Homo sapiens: one gene and its partners. The protein of the gene in region 2 purifies or fractionates together with the protein of the main gene of each other region. This does not show direct contact. Each region holds a gene or a part of one and is shown on either strand. Other genes may lie near its edges.

The links. Proteins that work in one complex are often made in the same cells at the same time.
Region 1: the proteins of PHLPP1 (region 2) and WDR20 purify together in Homo sapiens (affinity purification with mass spectrometry; 4 studies listed by BioGRID and IntAct, with this or other methods). This does not show direct contact.
Region 3: the proteins of PHLPP1 (region 2) and FKBP5 purify together in Homo sapiens (affinity purification with mass spectrometry; 4 studies listed by BioGRID and IntAct, with this or other methods). This does not show direct contact.

Annotation. Positions count from the first base shown.
Region 1 is NC_000014.9:102,135,000-102,142,896, reverse strand, and holds the start of WDR20 (WD repeat-containing protein 20), read right to left. Parts: upstream 3,001-7,897; 5' UTR 2,974-3,000; coding exon 2,725-2,973; coding exon of another isoform or gene 2,689-2,724; intron 1-2,688. Other genes in the region: HSP90AA1 (heat shock protein HSP 90-alpha), read left to right, coding at 3,493-3,647. UniProt on the Homo sapiens protein: Regulator of deubiquitinating complexes. Activates deubiquitinating activity of complexes containing USP12. Anchors at the base of the ubiquitin-contacting loop of USP12 and remotely modulates the catalytic center of the enzyme.
Region 2 is NC_000018.10:62,711,480-62,718,587, forward strand, and holds the start of PHLPP1 (PH domain leucine-rich repeat-containing protein phosphatase 1), read left to right. Parts: upstream 1-4,061; 5' UTR 4,062-4,204; coding exon 4,205-5,780; intron 5,781-7,108. UniProt on the Homo sapiens protein: Protein phosphatase involved in regulation of Akt and PKC signaling.
Region 3 is NC_000006.12:35,685,916-35,693,054, forward strand, and holds the start of FKBP5 (peptidyl-prolyl cis-trans isomerase FKBP5), read right to left. Parts: upstream 3,001-7,139; 5' UTR 2,889-3,000; exon of another isoform or gene 2,817-2,888; intron 1-2,816. UniProt on the Homo sapiens protein: Immunophilin protein with PPIase and co-chaperone activities. Component of unligated steroid receptors heterocomplexes through interaction with heat-shock protein 90 (HSP90).

The DNA.
Region 1 (7,897 bases), on a different chromosome or scaffold from region 2:
TCATTTTACACACAGACTTAAGTTGAATTTACTCATCTAAATTAGATCTTCTGAATAATCCAAATAATTATTGTAAAATTTTACACGCCTCAAAGGACCAAAAAAAAAAAAAAAAAAAAAAAGTCAAAACAGCCAACTGTGCGCTGGGCATGGTGGGTCACACCTATAATCTCAGCACTTTAGCAGGCTGAGGTGGGAGGATCGCTTGAGGCCAGGAGTTCAAGACCAGCCTGGGCAACACGGCAAGACCTCCATCTCTAAAAAACATTTTTTTTTTTAATTAGCCAGGGTGGTGCACACCTGTAGTTCCAGCCACTAGGAAGGCTGAAGTGGGAAGATCATTTGAGCCCAGGAGTTTGAGGCTGTAGTGAACGATGAGCACGCCACCGCACTCCAGCCTAGGCAACAGGATGAGATCCTGTCTCTAAAAACAAAAACAAAAACATGTTTAATAGCCAACTGTCAAAAATATGTTTGTAACTACTAACTCTAAAAAGTAAATTTTGGTTTTCCAATTAAGGAAAATGTATTTCCTATATTTTAAATCAGAAAATAGTCATAAAAAGTCACTTATACTCAGAAATAACAACAAATAAATGCCAACTCATTCATGGAAAAAAATGTTTAAGTTACAATTAAAAGAGAGTAGAAACATCTGCAACACAATGCAAATGTATCTACAAGATACTACCACATGAAAATGAAATTTTACCCAAAAAGCGTTAAAACACTCAAATTATGCAGGTAAGGGCAATTTACGTATTTCACATTTATCTTGTTTAAAATAATTTTTTGGTGTGGTTTTAAAAACCTTGCCTCCTTTTACCCTTCAGGGAATAGCGTCCCACTAAAAGAGAACACTATTGTAATGATACTTCCAGGCAAGAAACCTGTCTTTATGATGTAAAACAGGGCTACCAGATCCAGATAAGGTCTGCCATTAGGATGCTTCAGAAGTCATAACATTTCAAAGAAAAAAAAATTTTTAAGTAATTCCTACATTAATAATTGCTAGTTAGTGAATTTAGTTTTTAAGCACATCGTATTTTTATATAAATATAAATTTTTATAACTTAAAATTCTAAACTTAATTTCCTGAGACAAAATTGGTCCTTTCACTCTGATTATCAATGTCAAGACAGCAGCTTCTTATTTGACAGTCAGTATTTAACTATATTTTACATCTACTGAGTGTTTCAGGGCCTTAAAGTTCATTATGATTATTATATTATTAATTACAACGTGCACTGTAACATTCCCTTTTTAAAGAGGTGCAAATAGAAGTTAAATAACTTATCCAAGGTCACCCAAACAAGTCAGTGACAAAGTTGGGAGTAGGAGTAAAACTTCAGCCCCTAGACTGAAGACTACTTCGAGCTTTTGCAATTCCAAACGAGGAAAAAAAAAAGGTCAAGCGATTTACCCTTAATAACTTCCAACAGCATACCCTAAATACAGTGGTACACTTATTATCATAAAGACTAAGAAAAAAAGATTCACCCTGAATCAAAGAAACAACTTTGCTACATTTAGATACCACTGTCATTTCCCTAGCTCTTGTAACAAGCGAAAATCCTGTACTGGATCTGGCTATATTAAATCCTGAAGAATGTTCACTCTTCAATATGAACAATTTATTTTCATGCTAACATGCATTTACGACTTAATCTTTTATCACCTTGTCCTATTTGGAGGTGCTGTGGGATGCATTAATTTCCTCACTCTTCCATGACATCAAGTCAAAGACTACAATCTCAAAAATAAGCAATTCTCAGTGAAAACATAGTTACATAGCCAATGAAAGAAAAACTCTAATAAATGGCTGCTTTTAAAGAGATACTTTTAAAGGATGCTTACATGTTTCACAGAATTACCGGTAACTCGCCCGCCAAGAAGGATGGTCCCTTTAAAGCAGCTTTTAAAGCATATCACTCCCTGTTTGGGACACAGTCTGACTTGTTGGACAAGATTAATCTGGGCACTCTCACACAACCCCTCTGAACCAGCTTAGTTCACTGGAAACATCATTTCAACTGTAGTACTCAGCCCTTCGCATACTACAAGGGACAAGATGACTCTCCTTAACAATCTTTCAGAAGGTCCCCACGGCGGAGACAGTGACAGCCGTCCTCCCGCGGATGTTTTTGGAAATAGAAATGTTAACACCAGGAGAGGCTCCTAGGAAGTGTCAGTGCGGCAGCAGGTGGAGTAGCCCTGCGTGCCGAGCAGGTTCTTTCTGACCTAGTCTCAATGCTCCGCTTCCCGGCCCCGGTTCCGCCTTACAGAGATCTTGTTAAGCCGTCTTGCGTCCCTGTTCTCTAACCCAGGGCGAGACTTCCAACCCTCCAGGGAGGCGAGGCAATCGAAGCAGACAAGACGGCCACCTCACCTCTTCCGGGGACTCGCAGGCCCGCTCCCTGGCCATGTCAGAGCCTGATGGACCAGGCTGGAGGGGACGCAGCCGGCTCCCCCGGGAGCCTCCCAGCCAGAACCCCCGCGCCCCACGGTCCCTTTCCACTGCCCCCACCCCTTCGAAACGCCACCGCCACCACCCTCCTTACTCCTGAATCCCCTCTCCTCAGGAGTACCCCAGTGGAGTTACCGGCCCACTCAAAAGTAAGAGCGACGGCCACCCCTCTCGGTCACCCTGGCCCCACTGTCACCGCCCTGCTCCCGGCCTCTGCCTACGCCGCTGGCTGGCTCCGGTGACGCCCGGGTCGGTACCTTGCGGACCCCCTTGTAGATATAGAAGTACAGCTCCCGGCCCACATTGAAGCAGAGGCGGTCGCCGTTGCCAGACTGGTCGTTGAGGTTTACGAAGGAGACGCGGACAGGGTTGGATCCCTGCGAGTTGAAGGGCACCCGGTTGGGCCGGCTGTACTCCGAGTGCGGCAGCAGCTTGTACAGACCTTCCCGGGTGGTGAATTGGGTCTTAATCTCGTTCATCTCCTTCCCTCCTCCCTCCGTCGCCATCTTGGAAAGCAGCGTTCATCCTGCCCTAAGTGCCCGGATCACGCCCACCGCGCAGGCGCTGTTCCTGGTGCTCCCTCTTCCCCCACCCCCTGCCTCTTCCTTCTCGCCCCTCCCACCCGCGGGCCAGCCCTGCGAGGGCGGGCCAAAGGGAAGGGGTGGGCTTGTTTACGGCCCGACTGCGCAGGCGTGCTCACCTGGCGTGCTCCACCCGACTGGGCGTCCGCAGGCTCCTCCCCCGGGTGTGGCCTCCGGGCGGCATGGCTGCTTCCCAGGTGATGCCGGCTTCAGCTAGTGGGGTCTAGTTGACCGTTCCGCAGCCGCCAGGGCCAGCGGAAAGCCGGTCAGGGGGAACCGCGGCGGGGCTGGTGTCATGAGCCTGAGGTGAACTTGAGGGTGCCTCCTCAGCGGTCTCCCGCCCTGCCCTGAGGGGCGCCGGGACCCCAAAGAGCGGAGGAAGAGCGCCACCCCGACGGCCACCGCTTCGGAGCCAGCACGCGGGGTACCCTACGGGGAGCGCGGATGCCCCCGTGTTCGGGCGGGGACGGCTCCACCCCTCCTGGGCCCTCCCTTCGGGACAGGGACTGTCCCGCCCAGAGTGCTGAATACCCGCGCGACCGTCTGGATCCCCGCCCAGGAAGCCCCTCTGAAGCCTCCTCGCCGCCGTTTCTGAGAAGGTACCAAGGGACTCAAGATTTACGCTTCACTATGTTTTATTTCAGGCGGGGTAGGGGGAGAGAAGAATGTGGTACAGCATAGGTGTTCTCAAGCCAGATATCCTAATTCCTGCGTGTGATGAGCACTGGCGGCCTCCGCTTCTTAGCGGAGGTTTGTCCTCTCCAGCTGTTCAGAAACACGGGGCGGGGAAGCGCTTTGGGAACCGGGGACTGAATCTTTTTAGGATTCACTGATCTTGCTCAGTAGGTTACGAAGAGCTCTTAATAAAATTTAAGGTAATTGTTTTTTTTTCCAGAAGCCTCAGGTGGAGTCTGTGAGATTATTTACTAGTAGATCCATAGGGATAGTTGTATGCATGTAATGTACAGGGTCTAGATTTATAAGGACGGGCACACGTGTCAAAGTAAGATTCAACAATCACTATTTTATACCTGGGTTTCTTGGCATGTTACACCAGAATAAGAAAGCTTCTAAAGTGACAGAAACATTCTAATAGAATTCCAGGGAGGGGGGAAGCCAACATTTGTAACACCAAGAATGATCTATTCCTGGAAGTTCAGATTATATCTGGAGGGGCACAAAAGAAGTGAATGGAGAGAATTTCTAAAGTAGGAGGAGTGTAAATCATAAACATCTTCCGTATTAAAAAGCAAGTAGATACCAATAGAAACTGTGCCAATGATGTAGTAATACATTTGATAATAACATCTTTAGCCTTTGTAGTGTTGGAAAAAAAAAAGAAAAAAAAGCACTGAAGTACTTCTTAATTAATAGAGCCTGAAAAATACTTAAAATTTTTTCTTAGAATTGTTTTGATGTTATCCGACTTTCCCTAATCTTAAAACACCAGGGTATGTTCTGTCGTTACCATGGCTATATCCCAAACTCCATAACTGTGTTATTTTACATTGAAAACACGTATTTTACAATAATCAACTTGAAGGATAGTGGCATCTTGAATCATCTAAAAATAATTTATCTGTGTTTCCTAATTATCAAGAGGAAAAAAAGTATAATTTTTGGGGGGGGAAAAAAACCCAGCGAGCAAAAGTTAAAACAAAATTTTGTATTATTCTTCAATTAACCATAACATTGTATTTCCCATAATACCTATATAATTCAAGCATTCTATCAAGATTTTACCCTATATAAATTCAACATTTTATTATAATCACAGTAATAAACTGTTCACTTTGTCTCATGCATAGCCTTTGGTTTAGTTTTGTTTTTTTTTTCTTAGATGGAGTCTCGCTGTCGCCATGCTGGAGTGCAGTGGTGCAATCTTGGCTCACTGCAACCTCTGCCTCCCAGGTTCAAGCGATTCTCCTGCTTCAGCCTCCCGAGTAGCTGGGACTACAGATGTGCACCACCACGCCCAGCTAATTTTTGTATTTTTAGTAGAGATGGGGTTTCACCATGTTGGCCAGGATGGTCTTGATCTCTTGACCTGCTGATCCACCCACCTTGGCCTCCCAAAGTGCTGGTATTACAGGCATGAGCCACAGTGCCCAGTCCCATGCATAGCCTTTGAATAGTCTCTATTTTTATTCTTTTTATCTCATAACTTTTCCTCCATATTCAAAGATTCAATAAGCAACACCCAAATCTAAATAACTAGGCCTGAATGGCTGGGCGTGTTGGCTCACACCTGTAATCCCATCACTTTGGGAGGCCGAGGCGGGCAGATCACGAGGTCAGGAGTTTGAGACCGCCTGGCCAACATGGTGAAATCCCATCTCTACTAAAAGTACAAAAATTAGCCAGGCGTGGTGACACATGCCTGTAATCCCAGCTGCTCGGGAGGCTGAGGCAAGAGAATTGCTTGAACCCGGGAGGTGGAGGTTGCAATGAGCCGAGATGGCACCACTGCACTCCAGCCTGGGCAACAGAGCGAGACTCCATCTCAGGAAATAAATAAATAAATAGATAAATAAATAAATGGGCCTGACCTAATTTTATTTCTGATTTTCAATTTCAAACCGGGAATTTAAAAAAAAATTTTTTTTTTGAGATGGAGTCTCACTCTGTTGCCCAGGCTGGAGTGCAGTGGCACAGTCTCAGCTCTCCGCAGGCTGGAGTGCAGTGGCACAGTCTCAGCTCTCCGCCTCCCAAGTTCAAGCAATTCTCCTGCCCCAGTCTCCCGAATAGCTGGGATTACAGGCGCATGCCACCACACCCAGCTAATTTTTGTATTTTTAGTAGAGACGGGGTTTCACCACGTTGGCCAGGCTGGTCTCGAACTCCTGACCTCAGGTGATCCACCCACCTCAGCTTCCCAGAGTGCTAGGATTACAGGCGTGAGCCACCGCGCCCGGCCTCAAACCAGGTATTTCTTTTTTTTTTGTTTCCTTTTTTTTTTTTAAGAGAAGTCTCGCTCTTGTCCCCCAGGCTTGAGTGCAATGGCTCAATCTCGACTCACTGCAACCTCTGCCTCCCGGATTCAAACGATTCTCCTGCCTCTGCCTCCCAAATAGCTGGGATTAAGGCACCTGCCACCACACCTGGCTAATTTTTGTATTTTTTAGTAGAGACAGATTTTAACCATGTTGGCCAGGCTGGTCTTGAACTCCTGACCTCAGGTGATCCACCAGCCTCGGCCTCCGGAAGTGCTGGGATTATAGGCGTGAGCCACCGCGCCCGGCCCAAACCGGGTATTTCTTTTTTTTTTTTTTTTTTTTTTTGAGACGAGTCTCACTCTGTCGCCCAGGCTGGAGTGCAGTGGCATGATCTCGGCTCACCGTAACCTCTGCCTCCCGGGTTCAAGCGAGTCTTCTGCCTCAGCCTCCCGAGTAGCTGGGACTACAGGCATGTGCCACCAGGCCTGGCCAATTTTTTTGTATTTTTAGCAGAGACGGGGTTTCGCCATGTTGGTCAGGCTGGTCTCGAACTCCTGACCTCGTGATCCGCCCACCTTGCCCTCCCAAAATGCTGGGATTACAAGCGTGAGCCACCGCGCCCGGCCCAAACCGGGTATTTCTAAATAAATTCATCAGTTTCTAAACCTTATGAATTATTTTTTCATTTCAAACTTGAATCATTATGATGGTTTTGTGCATTAATTCCTTCTAAACAACTACCAAAATAATTTTCTAAAAACAGTGCTTTAGACATTACATATTCTTTTGTCCAAAAACTTTCAATTATTTGAAATACCCACACAATTTAAGTCATACTGAGAGGTTACAACGTGCTGGCAGTCCTCAGAGCCCTGGCTTGCTCTCGGCGCCTCCCCTGCCTGGGCTCCCACTTTGGTGGCATTTGAGGAGCCCTTCAGCCCCCCACTGCACTGTGGGAGCCCCTTTCTGGGCTGGCCAAGGCTGGAGCCCACTCCCTCAGCTTGCAGGGAGGTGTGCAGGGAGAGGCGAGAGCGGGAACCGGGGCTGCGTGCGGCTCTTGCGGGCCAGCTGGAGTTCCGGGTGGGCGTGGGCTTGGCGGGCCCCGCACTTGGAGTAGCCAGCCAGCCCTGCTGGCCCCGGGCAATGAGGGACTTAGCACCCGGGCCAGTGGCTGCGGAGGTGTACTGGGTCCCCCAGCAGTGCCGGCCCACCGGCGCTGTGCTCGATTTCTCGCCGGGCCTTAGCTGCCTTCCCGCGGGGCAGGGCTCCGGGACCTGCAGCCCCCATGCCTGAGCCTCCCACCCACTCCATTGGTTCCTGTGCGGCCGGAGCCTCCCCGACGAGCACCACCTCCTGCTCCACGGCGCCCAGTCCCATCGACCACCCAAGGGCTGAGGAATGCGAGCGCACGGCGCAGGACTGGCAGGCAGCTCCACCTGCAGCCCCGGTGCGGGATCCACTAGGTGAAGGCAGCTGGGCTCACACCAATCAGCACCCTGTGTTTAGCTCAAGGTTTGTGAGTGCACCAATCCACACTCTGTATCTAGCTACTCTGGTGGGGCCTTGGAGAACCTTTATGTCTAGCTCAGGGATTGTAAATACACCAGTCGGCACTCTGTATCTAGCTCAAGGTTTGTAAACACACCAATCAGCACCCTGTGTTTAGCTCAAGGTTTGTGAGTGCACCAATCCACACTCTGTATCTAGCTGCTCTGGTGGGGCCTTGGAGAACTTTTATGTCTAGCTCAGGGATTGTAAATACACCAATCGGCACTCTGTATCTAGCTCAAGGTTTGTAAACACACCAATCAGCACCCTGTGTTTAGCTCAAGGTTTGTGAATGCACCAGTCGACACTCTGTATCTAGCTGCTCTGGTGGGGCCTTGGAGAACCTGTGTGGAAACTCTGTATCT
Region 2 (7,108 bases):
CTTCTCTTACCCCAAGCTTAGTAACATCACTGGGGGCTTGGGTCAGAACAAGGGAAGGATTACACAGTGGACCCCGGCCCTTTTGCTCTCCCCTTAGCTCTGATTTACATTATTCTGCATACAATGGAATATGTCATCTTCAGATGATGGACTCTATGCATGAAATCCAGGAAAATTGTATTTTAGGTCCCCACCCCTCCAAACACTGTTTTTATGAGGTAGGAATGTATTTCCTTCTTCGTTATGCTGAGGTACTGTAACAATATTCATCCTGTTCATTTCCTGCCTCCTCCCGACACCACTTAGTATTAGGTATCCCAGTACCAAGCCCCTATCTGCCAGGAGTGTATGATGGCTCTCCAGTCCCCATTTCCCCATTATTTGGATACTAAATCCTCTGAGCAATGTCTTTATTTTTTTTTTGAGACAGAATTTCTCTCTTGTTGCTCAGGCTGGAGGAGTGCAATGGCGCAATCGCGGCTCACTGAGTCCTCCGCCTCCTGAGTGGCTGAAATTACAGGCACCCGCCACCACGCCCGGCTAATTTTTTGTATTTTCAGTGGAGGCGGGGTTTCGCCATGTTGGCCAGGCTGGTCTCCAACTCCTGGCCTGAGGTGATCCGCCCGCCTTGGCCTCCCAAAATGCTGGGATTACAGGCGTAAGCCACTGCGCCCAACCTGAGCAATGTTTTTGGTACAAATTTTTTTCCCCTTGAAAAAGGTGTTTTAGTTATAAATACCTTCAAAGAGTAAACAAAATTGCTAGAGAATAAAAAAGGCAGAGTTGCGGTGATTGTGTAATGTTAAATAATAGGAACCATGGGTGGATTCAATGCGGTATTGTAATTTCTTAGAGAAGGAGCAATGGCGATAGAATTTATGATTAGAAGAAACATTCTGGGTTAGGTGTGGTGGCTCACGCCTGTAATCCCAGCCCTTTGGGAGGCCGAGGCAGGTGGATCACTTCAGGTCAGAAGTTTGAGACCAGCCGGGGCAATATGGTGAAACCCCATCTTTACAAAAAAATTTAAAAAGTAGCTGGGCGTGGTGGTATGCGCCAGTAGTCCCAGCTACTCAGGAGGCTGAGGCAGGAGAATCGCTTGAACCCCGGAGGCAGAGGTTGCATTGAGCTGAGATGGCACCATTGCACTCCAGCCTGGGCAACAAGAGTGAAACTCCATCTCAAAAAATAAATAAATAAATAAATAAACAAACATGCCGGCCGTGGTGGCTCTCGTTTGTAATCCCAGCACTTTGGGAGGCCGAGGCATATGGATCACCTGAAGTCAGGAGTTTGAGACCAGCCTGGCCAACATGGCAAAACCCTGTCTCTACTAAAAATACAAAAATTAGCCGGACGTGGTGGTGTGTGCCTGTAATCCCAGCTACTTGGGCGGTTGAGGCAGGAGAATCGCTTGAACCTGGGAGGTGGAGGTTGCATTGAGCCGAGATGGCGCCACTGCACTCCAGCCTGGGTGACAGAGGGAAACTCCGTCTAAAAAAAAAAAGAAAAAATAAAAATAAAATAAATAAATAAATATAAAGGGGTTTGTAGGAAATCAACTAAGGAATATAAAGAGGTATACAAATTCCATGTTTTAGTACTGAAATTTAACATGTGCCTTGTTTTTTAAATTTTATTAAAGGATGCCTAAATTAAAGGACTATTCTTTCAATTTCTAGAACAAATAGTTTGTGTCGGGGCTACTGAAGGCACAACACAGATCAGTGTAGTTGAAATTTATCTCAATATAATTACCTCTTTGGTTCTTCCCTTTCTTTCAGAGACTGATCCTTCAACAAATGCACATTTTCACTGACTCCAAAAAATTTCATTCAAACTTTGGTCTGTATTGCCTGACTTCTTAGACTAGGTTAGTTCCTCTTGTTTTATGTCTATTTCTGTGGCACCTTGTATTTTCCCCTTCTGTACTTCTGCTGCATTTTTTGAATGTTATTCTTTCTAACCTGTAAACTCTATGAAGGCAGGGACAGTGTGTGATTTATTCAACTGCTATAACACGGTGACTGGTACATAATAAATGTTTGTAATTATCTGTTAAATTAATTGACTTGAAAATGTTATCACTCTTGGGAGAACTTGCAATCTCCCTAATTTTTCATATGTTGCTGTTGATTGAATTTAAATAAAATACATATTATTAATAGATTCATGAGGCTAAGGGGTGAAACTTTAAATGAAAATACAGAAAATCATCAGGAATGTAAAAAATCATTGAGAAATATTTATTTTTATCTCCACAGCTTCTTCATTCTTGTTCAATGAAACTGTGATAACCTAAGCGGTAAGTTCCAGTTGGTCTCTCTCTCCAACCCCCTTCACTCTTCATCTGCAAGTTTAGTCACTTTATTGAGGTTAAAACAGGTCATAGATAGTATGTGGTTTAAAACTGTTTAAAAGTTTCACATGTGAAAATCCGGATTTAGGGCCTGGCGCGGTGGCTCACGACTGTAATCTCGGCACTTTGGGAGGCTGAGGCGGGCAGATCGCTTGAGACCTGCCGGGGCAGCATGAAGGGACTTCCCACCCCCACTAAAACAATACAAAAAATGAGCCGGGCTTGGTGGCAAGCCCTGTAGTCCCAGCTACTCGGAGGATGAGGTGGGAAAATCACCTGGGCCCGAGAGGCGGAGGTTGCAGTGAGCCCAGATCGCGCTACCGCACTCCAGCCTGGACGACAGACCCACTCTGTGGCCAAAAAAAAAAAAAAAAAAAAGAAAAAAAGAAAAAAGAAAGAAAAAAAGAAAAGAAAAATCCCGAATTACAAAGCAATTGGGGGAATGGTAATTCAATTAAAAAGGTGTACAACATTCTTTTAAATAGTAAACTGCCCAATGATTACAACATTGATTCAACTGACGAAAAATACAACTTTTCAGACCACGACTAAACATTGTGGCAGTAGAAACTATTTTTTTTTTCCCTGAATGATGAAAGAAAAAAACCAGAGAAGACGTTAAGACAGAACACGTGGAAAAAGCCCATCTCATACTCCATTCTAATGTTTCTTCTACTTACCAGTGCTTTCTGTGTCATTAAACTACTTCAGACTTCAAGAGCAATGGGAAACAATGAAACCTCAGTCCTTTGCTATTTTCCTTTTCAGGTACAGGAGAGGGAGAGGACAGACTTAGGGTTGTGCCTTCGAACAAGCACATTCAACGACAGCCTCAGTTAGAATTCCCAGACGCTGCCTGTCTTCCTGGGTCTTGAAAAAGTGGGGAAAAAGTGAGGTTGGCCCACTCAGACTGCCAGTGATGCTGTGGTGTGACGGGTGTGTATCTCTATCTCATACAATGGGCGCAGGTGAGGACCAGGACCTGCGACCTTCGTACGTTTACAGTCCCTGAAAGCCCTCACCTTTAATTAGTAGGGAAAATAAAAGTCATCTGGCAAGCTGGAGTGCGGGTAAAATACAAGTTAATGAACATGAGCATTCGTGTTCATTAAGAACTCTGGCACAGAGTTCAACGGCAGAGGGCACAATACTCACTGGCCACGGCCAGCTGCTGGCGGCCAGGAGAAGCAGAACCAAAGGACCGCTGGGACTTGTAGTCCACCATGTTTCCCTCGGGATTGCCGATCCCCTTACGAGAACCACAACTCCCAAGGTTTACCGCGCGCGTCGGTCTTCACTGCCCTCTCCGAGGCCGGCTCAGGAACCTCCCGGGAAACTGCCCCCCACCCCGCCCTCGTACGCACGCGTCACGTTTGTTTACCCTGAAGCTCCGCCTCCGGCCATCCCCTGGCTCTCCCCACTCCTCCCTGGAATGCCGTCATGCCGGCGATGAATATTTATGAGGCACACGCGGCCCTCCCGCCCTGCCAGCCTCCCGCCTTCCCGCTCCCGGCGCATGATTAATATTCAATGAGCCCAGATCCGCGGCTGGTTCGCCGGGTTGAGGCGGGGGTAGCGGGCGGGGCCGGCGCTGGGGAGCCCGCGACCCGGGCGGGGAGGGCGTGTGTCGGGGGGGCGGTGGCGGCGAGGCGGGCGCGCGGGATGGAACACTGAGACACCGACGGAATGCTCCGAATCGCCACATAATCCCCTGGAACGGCCGCGCACAACGCCATTGGCTTCTCCCTTCTCCGCGCGCCGCCGCCGTCTCCCACCTCCGCCTCATCGCCTCCCTCTCCGCCCGCTGCCTCCGGAGCTGGGGGGGAAACGCGAAGCCCCACTGCAATGGAGCCCGCCGCCGCGGCCACGGTACAGCGACTCCCCGAGCTCGGCAGGGAGGACCGAGCTTCGGCTCCGGCGGCCGCCGCTGCGGCAGCAGCAGCAGCAGCGGCGGCCGCGGCGGCTCTGGCGGCGGCGGCCGGGGGCGGCCGGAGTCCGGAGCCCGCGCTGACCCCGGCGGCCCCGAGCGGCGGGAACGGCAGCGGCAGCGGGGCGCGGGAAGAGGCCCCAGGCGAGGCGCCGCCGGGGCCGCTGCCGGGCAGAGCGGGGGGTGCCGGGCGCAGGAGGCGGCGCGGGGCGCCCCAGCCCATTGCCGGCGGGGCTGCCCCCGTACCCGGGGCCGGCGGCGGCGCCAACTCCCTCCTGCTGAGGAGAGGGCGGCTGAAGAGGAATCTGTCCGCGGCCGCCGCGGCCGCCTCCTCGTCGTCGTCGTCCTCGGCCGCTGCTGCCTCGCACTCCCCCGGCGCTGCCGGCCTCCCCGCCTCCTGCTCGGCCTCGGCGTCGCTGTGCACCCGGAGCCTGGACAGGAAGACGCTGCTTCTGAAGCACCGGCAGACGCTGCAGCTGCAGCCGTCGGACCGGGACTGGGTGAGGCACCAGCTCCAGCGCGGCTGCGTGCACGTCTTCGACCGCCACATGGCCTCGACCTACCTGCGCCCGGTGCTCTGCACACTGGACACCACGGCCGGCGAGGTGGCCGCCCGCCTGCTGCAGCTGGGCCACAAAGGCGGCGGCGTGGTGAAGGTGCTGGGCCAGGGGCCCGGAGCCGCCGCCGCCCGGGAGCCCGCTGAACCGCCCCCCGAGGCCGGCCCCCGGCTGGCGCCCCCGGAGCCGCGGGACTCGGAGGTACCGCCCGCGAGGAGCGCGCCGGGTGCCTTCGGGGGGCCTCCGCGCGCGCCCCCCGCCGACCTACCCCTGCCCGTCGGCGGCCCGGGCGGGTGGTCGCGCCGCGCCAGCCCAGCGCCCTCGGACTCCAGCCCCGGCGAGCCGTTCGTTGGGGGCCCTGTCTCTTCGCCCCGCGCCCCACGGCCTGTGGTCTCCGACACCGAGAGCTTCAGTCTGAGTCCCAGCGCCGAGAGCGTGTCTGACCGGTTGGACCCCTACAGCAGCGGCGGCGGCTCCTCGTCGTCGTCGGAAGAGCTCGAGGCCGACGCAGCCTCGGCCCCGACGGGGGTCCCGGGCCAGCCCCGCCGTCCCGGCCACCCCGCGCAGCCCCTCCCGCTTCCCCAGACGGCTTCCTCGCCTCAGCCGCAGCAGAAAGCCCCGAGGGCCATTGACAGCCCGGGCGGGGCCGTCCGCGAGGGGTCGTGCGAGGAGAAGGCAGCGGCAGCCGTGGCCCCGGGAGGCCTCCAGTCTACCCCCGGGAGGAGCGGGGTGACCGCGGAGAAGGCGCCTCCGCCGCCCCCGCCGCCCACCCTGTACGTGCAGCTCCACGGAGAGACCACCCGGCGCTTGGAGGCGGAGGAGAAGCCATTGCAGATCCAAAATGACTACCTCTTCCAACTGGGATTTGGGGAGCTGTGGAGGGTGCAGGAGGAAGGCATGGACTCGGAGATTGGCTGCCTCATCCGCTTCTATGCAGGTAAGGAAGTCACCTGCCTTGACGGGTGGTTGCAAAAGCTGCCGAGGACCGAGGAGTGATTCAAATTGCTTGTCAGTTTGCCCAACCCAAGAGTAAGTGCGGGTCCTGATGAGTCTTTGTCTTAAACTTTACAGCTTTTTCATACAGTCTGTGTAGTACTAGATTGAGCAATCTTTAAATCTGCACGTTTTATCAATCTTGAGGGCTCAGAGGTTGGAAAGCAATGTGAAAGAGGTGGCTGAATCACCAGGAAGTACAGGAAGCAGATCCCTCTGAAAGCGGCAAGAGCACCTTTAACCATAAAGGTGCTTCCTCAGGGGCATGTTGGGTTTCAGGCAGTTTGGGATTTCAGGTAAACTGTCACGTGAGCATAAGACGGACAGAAGAAATGACAATAAAAATGCTCTATCACACTTTTGCCTGCATTTGACTGTCCAGTTGAGCGTTCTAGCTGTATGTGCCACCGGGAGCTCCTGACTTGTCAACTGGTGCCTTTGTTTATTCAGCTCTGCCACACTCATAAATTACCCACGGAGCCCTCATTAGAAATCTGACAAAAGGGTGCCTTTTTAACTGATACTTTTCCCCAGCGCTTTTTTTGCTCGATTTCTGTTTCGTCTGCAAGTTTGTCTTGCATAAAAAAAAAGATTTTGCCTGTTTCTCTCATTTTCTTCCAGCCTTTATGGTCAGAACTGACCACCGCAATACGCCTTGCAGGAAGGTTCACAAGAAGGATTTAAGTGGTTGCTATTTCTTCAGATGTGTCCTGAAATCTTCCCCCGTCTTGTTTCAGTACATTAGCAAATTCTTGACTAGGGGTGACCCATGTAATGTTTCTCTTTTGGCTGAAGATTTGGCTAGTACTAAATTCAGGAGCTATAGATGCTGGATATTGTACTTGAGTTTTCTAAGTAGTTTTACATCCCTTTCCTCCTCTGGTTTGAATAATTATGTTCTCAGTGATAAGGAATTTTATTTAAAATAAAGTTCTCATAGCAAAATTAAATCAAGAGTGTTAACTCTTCGCTAACTTTACGTTTTTAGGTTGTAGGTGATGGTGGAAAATAATCATACTTGTAACTCCATTAATTTGTAGCCATTCTTTACAATTTAATGTCTTTTGGTCCAGCTTGTGTGTCCCAGTGGCAATTTAATTAGTTTGCATGAAGAAATCTTTACATCTTTACTCCCACATTGAAATATGCAAGACTGACAGGATTCCTGGTGAGAGAGATGCCCTTTAAATTTCTTGGAAGTTTTTCTGAAATTTAAGTGGATTTCTGATGAATCTTTTACTTGTAAAGAAAACCAAATCGTAATACAGTAGC
Region 3 (7,139 bases), on a different chromosome or scaffold from region 2:
AGGTTGCAATGAGCCGAGACTGCGCCCTTGCACTCCAGCCTGGGCAACAAGAGCAAAACGCCATCTCAAAAAAAAAAAAAAAAAAAAAAGCAAAACTAATGTCTATAATAGTGGCATTTGATCTAGCCTCAAAATTAGTTGTTTTAATGTAAGCCCTTGTTTTCTGTAGCTTCATTTATTTAAAAATACTTACTATCACCTCCAAACTCAAAAGGAGTTATACCTGAGGGTAAATGGCTTTAAAAACACTCCCAATGTTTATTGTGTGGATTTGAGAATTCAACTTATGCTTAATTTTTGAAACTGAAATTGTAGTTGATAATTTTATGATATCATCTATTACAAGTTAAAGTAGAGAAAAATCAGTAATTAAAATATCTAAAAACTAAATTTTAAAATGGGCTTTTAATTAAACCTAAAGTTAATAAAACTTTAACTTTTATAGTTAAAATACTAAAATACACATATGTAAATAAATTTATGAAATGCAACTTTATTGTATGTGGTTTATATACATACATCATCACAGAATAAGGACAATAAACAACTAATTATTAATAGTATTTTATATATTTAAGTACACTAAAGAGCAATTATATAAATGATAAAAAATAATGGAAGCTACAGTCTTATCCAGTTCCTTTCAACTATTTACATAGAATAAGCCCTCCGAACGTGAGGATGAATTATTGTTCAACCTATCCACACTAAACATCAAAAAGCCAACTTAGCTTTTAACAGCAGTAACTTCTTCTACAGGTATACAAACAGGATGTTCTTTCCTCTCCAGACTAATTCATCCTAAGCAGAGAAGCCTTTAGGAAACTAAACTGAACCCAAAATATGCATTATTTTCCAAGAATAAACAGATAACTAAAGATTTAATAAGTTGCCTAATGCAATATTTTAAGTTTTTCATTTGAACTGATTAAAAATATGTTTTAAAAAAGAAATTCACCCAAAATTCCCATAACTAAAAGAATTAAAGACTCAGAAACATACAAAGACCTCATAGCTTGTTATGGAGAAATAAAACAATAAAGACCACTATATTCTTTTTAATCTAAAATAGTCACAATTATTGGTTGAAGAGTTGATGGTTCAATGGCGAACTCTTATCAGCTATTAGCTAACTGTAATTACCTAGGCAAATAAGTAAAATGACCATTCAATGAATAATAAACTAGCATAATTAAATCAAGATTAGCAACTTTGTTCTTAACTTAAACTTAATCTCCGAAGTATAAATCTTACCTAATACAGATATCAACCAAGACACATTAGAAGAAAAAAACTGGGTAACTAAATAAAGTGTTTCTCACAAATAATGAGTATTAATAACCCTCGTTTTAAAAATGTCATTTGTATAGAATCTCTAAATTGGTCAGGGCCATAATTGCAGACTGTCAGGCAGAGGTCAGCTGGGGGAGAGACAAACAGAAAATGGTGAAGTGAAAGTATGACAATAAAAATTTCCCACCAGAATAAGAATTTTTTTCAAGTCGATTCTTGGCTTTTGATTCAAACACCAAGAGAAGCAGCTCCCTTTAGAGAATTACTTTATAATTCTCTAAAGTAAAAACCCTTATGGAGGAGGTGGATAGAATCCCAGACTATTAAAAATACTTAACCAAAATATGCTTTAACTTTTCCCTTGTCCACAATCTAACAAAATGGGAAGACAATGAAAATAAACACTCCTGTCTACACTCAGAGAGGCAAAGAAAGCTCCCATTCAGTAGTAAGCCTTATTCCACTGGAAAACATACTCCTGAAAAGTAAATCCAAAACCACGAGCTCAAACTGCTTCATGCAGAATTTACTGAACGGCGGCCAAACGCTGAACACACTGTCCTGAACCACACTGAAGGGTATCTACAATTCTGCATCTCCGCTTACAACTTGAAACTTACTACGCTTTCGCCACCACTGCAGAACCCGATTTTAGAGACTACGATGGTCCTGCCGGTTCGTTAATCGAAGAAAGCCACTCTGCACCCTGACGCTCGTAGTGTCTTTTTGGTAATACTGGTTTTTGACTCTTATACTGTGACCGGTGCACCTTTTTGGACGACCAATAAGGCGGAAGACGTTTTCACGTCCCAGAACAGAAGAGCATAAGGAGCCCTGGCACAGCGTTCAGCCGCTTCGGTATGGCCTGGGAGTGACGCGGATCACCTGTTAGACGGCGCTGCGCGGACTCCTCCACAAGCGGCCGACAGCGGCGATGCGGTTCCCCAACGCTTGTCCCGAGGCGGCAGGTGAAGGCGGGGACCGCCCGTCCACACCCGGAGCGCGGCCACCCCGCCACCATCCCCTTCACAGCCCCGCCAGGTGGGCGAATCCGCCCCGCGCCCGCGGCGTCCCGGCGCTCGGCTCGCCCTGGGGTCCGGTTGTCCCGGCGCCCGGACCCGAAAGCGAAGTTTGGCTCCCGCCCGCAGCGGTGCCGGCTGAGGGTCCGGCCGCCTGTCCGGGGAGAGCCGGGGGCCAGAGACCGGAGGCGGAGCGGGACCTGTCATCCCGGGCGGGAAACAAAAGCCCAGTGAGGACGGGCGGGCGCGACCCGCCTCGCCTCTGCCGGGAGAGGCCGGCGGGGGCGGAGAGCGGCGCCCGCGGTCACTAGTCTCCGCGCCTCCCGCGGGGAGCACCGGCCCCGCGGCCCCTGGGGCGCGGCGAGGGGCGCCGCAGTGGGGCCGAGGCCTCCCGCGCGCTCCCCTCGAGGCTTCCGGACCCCGCTCCCCCGCGACACGCGGCTCCTGGGCTGCGAAGCCGCGTGGGGGTGGGAGCTGAGGCAGCGAGTGCGACCGCGGCGGGACCTGGAAGGAGGGCGTTCGGCTCCCGGGGCGCCGCGGCCGGCCGCCCCATCTCCGTGGCCATGGCGCCGGTACCTGTCGCCGCGGGGGCTCGCCGACTCCGTCACTCTCCGCCTTGCCCGTGCTCCGCTAACCCTTCAGCCCGCCCAGCAGGCCGCCCGCGCGCCGGACACCGCCGCCCGAGACTGGCAGCGCCCGCGAGCCGGCCCGAATCCCCGGGGCAGCGCCCGGCGCCGTCCCGCCCCAGCCGGCCGCAGGACCCGCCTTCCATAGGGCCCCGGGGCTGTCAGTCCGCCCCCAAAAGGCGCGCGGGCTGTCGATCCGCCTGTCCGGATTGGTGGCCGCGCGCCGTCCATGCAAATGAGGCCCCGCCCCCATCATTTGCTCCTCCACCTCCCCACGCCAGCCCACGTGTCTGGCCCTTGCCCTTTGTGGGGGCCATAGAGAAGGGATGGTGGAAACTGACACCCCCTCACATCTCTTACCTCCCGAGAAATTAATGCCTAAGCAAGCTAGTTGACTTCCCATCTGTATCGTCTCTCTGAAGGCACTGCCCCTCCTATCTGTCCACAGGGCCTACCTAGAGGCCGGAGAGGGGCAGGCCAGGCTGTTTGTTAGGTCAGCTGGCCAGGTTAGCCCTAGGAAGCAACCCCATTAAGTCTAAGATGCCCAGTCGGGACTGGGGAAATCCCACCTCGAGAACCAATTTAGCAGATATCACCTCCCTCTGGACACCCAGTGACTGTAAAGACCATACTTTCTCTTGGCTTGCTACCTTTCAAGCAGGAGATCCCAGGAGATTAAAACAGGAAGAGGCCTTACGGCTGAGTTCGGCCAGGTGGGGTGGCTCACGCCTGTAATCCCAGCACTTTGGAAGGCCGAGGTGGGCGGACCACGAGGTCAAGAGATCGAGACCATCCTAGCCAACATGGTGAAACCCCGTCTCTACTAAAAATACAAAAATTAGCTGGGCTTGGTGGCGCGCGCCGTCCCAGCTACTCGGGAGGCTGAGGTAGGAGAATCGCTTGAACCTGGGAGGCAGAGGTTGTAGTGAGTCGAGATCACGCCACTGCACTCCAGCCTGGTGACAGAGCAAGACTCCATCTCAAAACAAAAACAAAAACAAAACGGCTGAGTTCTTCCGCCAACTCCGAAAGGTAGACTGCCAACCAGATGGCTACCTCTGAGTTACTCCCATAGAGATGCAGGAGCTGCACCTGGGCCTTAGGGAATCTCTAATCAACTCTCTCATTTTTAAGGAAACAGAAACCTGATGTCCCATAGCTAGTTACACGTGGGACCTAATAGTTACCTATGGAAACCTAATATCCCATAGCCAGATTAGAACTCATGTCTCCTGGCTCCAAACCTGCTCTCTTTGCACTATACTGCATTCAAACATTTATGAAGAGCCTCGTCCAGAAATCGCCATGCTGCCTTCAAGAGATGATGCCTGGGCGCCGGGCGCGGTGGCTTACGCCTGTAATCCCAGCACTTTGGGAGGCCGAGATGGGCGGATCACCTGAGGTCGGGAGTTCGAGACGAGCCTGACCAACATGGAGAAACCCCGTCTCTACTAAAAATAATTTTAAAAAATTAGCCGGGCATGGTGGCGCATGCCTGTAATCCCAGCTATTCAGGAGGCTGAGGCAGGAGAATTGCTTGAACAGAGGTTGCAGTGAGCCGAGATCGCACCATTGCACTCCAGCCTGGGCAACAAGAGCGAGACTCCATTCTAAAAAAAAAAAAAGGGTGATGATGTCTGCAGAAAAGACAAATAAAGCCAAGACTGAAACCGCCTCGAGGGCAGGGGTTCTGTCTCAGTCATTTGTCTGTCCTCAGTGCCTAGAAGCTTCCCTGTTTACCAGTTGCCGAGGGGAGTCACTGAAACAATGTATTTGTTCATTAACGCAGAAAAACAAAGTTGATCAAAATTCCTCTGCATACTAATACCAATTGATTAAGCATCTACTATGCTTAATAATAGCACATATTAGGCAGGGCACAGTGGTTCACACCTGTAATCCTAGCACTTTGGAAGACAGAGGTGGGCGGATCACCTGAGGTCGGGAGTTCGAGACCAGCCTGACCAACATGGAGAAACCCCATCTTTACTAAAAATACGAAATTAGCCAGGCATGGTGACGCATGCCTGTAATCCCAGCTACTCGGGAGGCTGAGGCAGAAGAATCGCTTGAACCCGGGAGGCGGAGGTTGCAGTGAGCCGAGATGGCACCATTGCACTCCAGCCTGGGCAACAAGAGCAAAACTCCATCTCAAAAAAAATAATAATAAATAAATAAAATAAAATAAAATAAAAATAACAGCACATATTAAGCTCTATGCTATCAGGGTATATATGTCCCAACCCTCAAGGGCTTCATTAGGAGACAGTGACATACACGTAACATGTCAGTTCTCCTCTTCATGTTACAGGGGTTGTGACAGATGTCTGCATAGGGCACAATGGAAGGCGCCAAGGAAAGAGGAATCAGCTCTTCCTACGAGAGGCAGGGAAGGCGTCATTGAAGAGGTCACCTGACAGTAGAGCTGAATCTTAGAAGATGAAGTAGGTGTTTGCCAGACAGAGGGGTGTGGACAAGGGGGAAAGGGACTCCCAGGCAGGAGGGGACAGCGTGAGCAAAAAGCATGCAGACCTGGAAAAGCCTAATAATTGAGGGAACAGTGAGGAGCAGTGTGGGCAAATCTGCAGAGGGCTGTGTGGACGTGTCACATGTCTGGGACCAGGCTCTTCCAGGAGGAAGACAGAAAGGCAGGGGAGGCTGCCAGGCTGTGTTGTAATACACCGCAGCAACAACAACAGGCCCTGTAGATACAGCTACACGGTTCTTTTTTTTTCTAGGCCAGAGTCTGTGGAGAACAGTCAGTTCCACAGTTCCGATGGCAGCCTTGCTAGCCCCACCCACTCTCCCAGAAAACCACTCTGATCACTGCACTTGCCTTCCTTGGCATTTGGAAACACATGTGCTTGCATTTTCCCTAAACATTACTGCCCTTCAGAATTCAAAGATGACATGCGCTATGGCTGCAGATACCTGGATGTGGGATGAGCAGCCCTTTCCTAAGGCACAGTACGGTTCTTTGCAGGGTCTGTACCTAAGACCAGTTCCATGGGTATGTGACCTGTGTAGTACACAGGGCCGTGTACTTAGAAGAGCCCTGTGCTGGGTCTAATGCTCTGCTGCCGCCGTCTTGAAATTCTTAGTACTTTCTCAACAAAGGGCCCTGCACTCTCATTTTTCACTGGGCCCTGCAAATTATATGGCCAGTCCTGCCTGTCACTGGTAGTGACCCTGGGCATGCTTGTGGAACTGCTCAAACCACATCTCATTTTAAAAGCACTTCGCATTCACTAGACTCATTCACATGCATTTTATCATTTGATTCTCTTTTTCTGTCTTCCTTTTTCTTTTAGAGACAAGGGCTCACTCTATTACCCAGGCTGGCCTGGAACCGCTGGGCTCAAGAGACCCTCCCACCTTGGCCTCCTAAACTGTCAAGATTGCAGGTGTGAGCCACCTTGCCCGAACTTATCATTTGATTCTCACAATGGGGTAGGCCAGTGTTACTCTTTATTTTCATTTATTACTTGAAAAAATTGAAGTTTGGCAACTTTCTCCAGGTGGCACAGCTAGGAAGTAGCAGAGCTTGTACTTGAACTCAGCCCAGGCAAGCCCTGTTCCAACTACTACCGAGCTACCTTCATCTTGGTTTCAGAATCCTTTTAAAGGCAGCTTTGTACATTAAGGTTTTTGAGAGTCAGAGTATGCCAGGCGTGGTGGTTCATGCCTATAATCCCAGCACTTTGGGAGGCTGAGGTGGGCGGATCACCTGAGGTCAGGAGTTCGAGACCAGCCTGGCCAACATGGTGAAACCCTGTCTCTACTAAAAATACAAAAATTAGCTGGGCGTGCGCCTGTAGTCCCTGCTACTTGGGAGGCTGAGGCATGAGAATTGCCTGAACCCAGACGGTGGAAGTTGCAGTGAGCCAAGATTGCACCACTGCACTCCAGCCTGGGTGACAGAGTGAGACTCTGTCTCAAAAAAAAAAAAAAAAAAGAAGAGAATACACGGTAGAGTGGATATCTGTCATTTCACGGCTGCCTATCACCTTTGAATAGTTTTTCCTCAGTTTTGAACAATTCTCAGACATTATATGTTCAAATACGATTTCTGTCCTTTTTCTTCTTTCTTTCTGGGGCTCCAGTTGAAACACATTCAACCTTCTTACTTCATCCCTTTATTCTGTATTTTCTGTCTTTTATCCTTCTATGCTTTGTCCTAATAAGTTTCTTCTATTTTCAG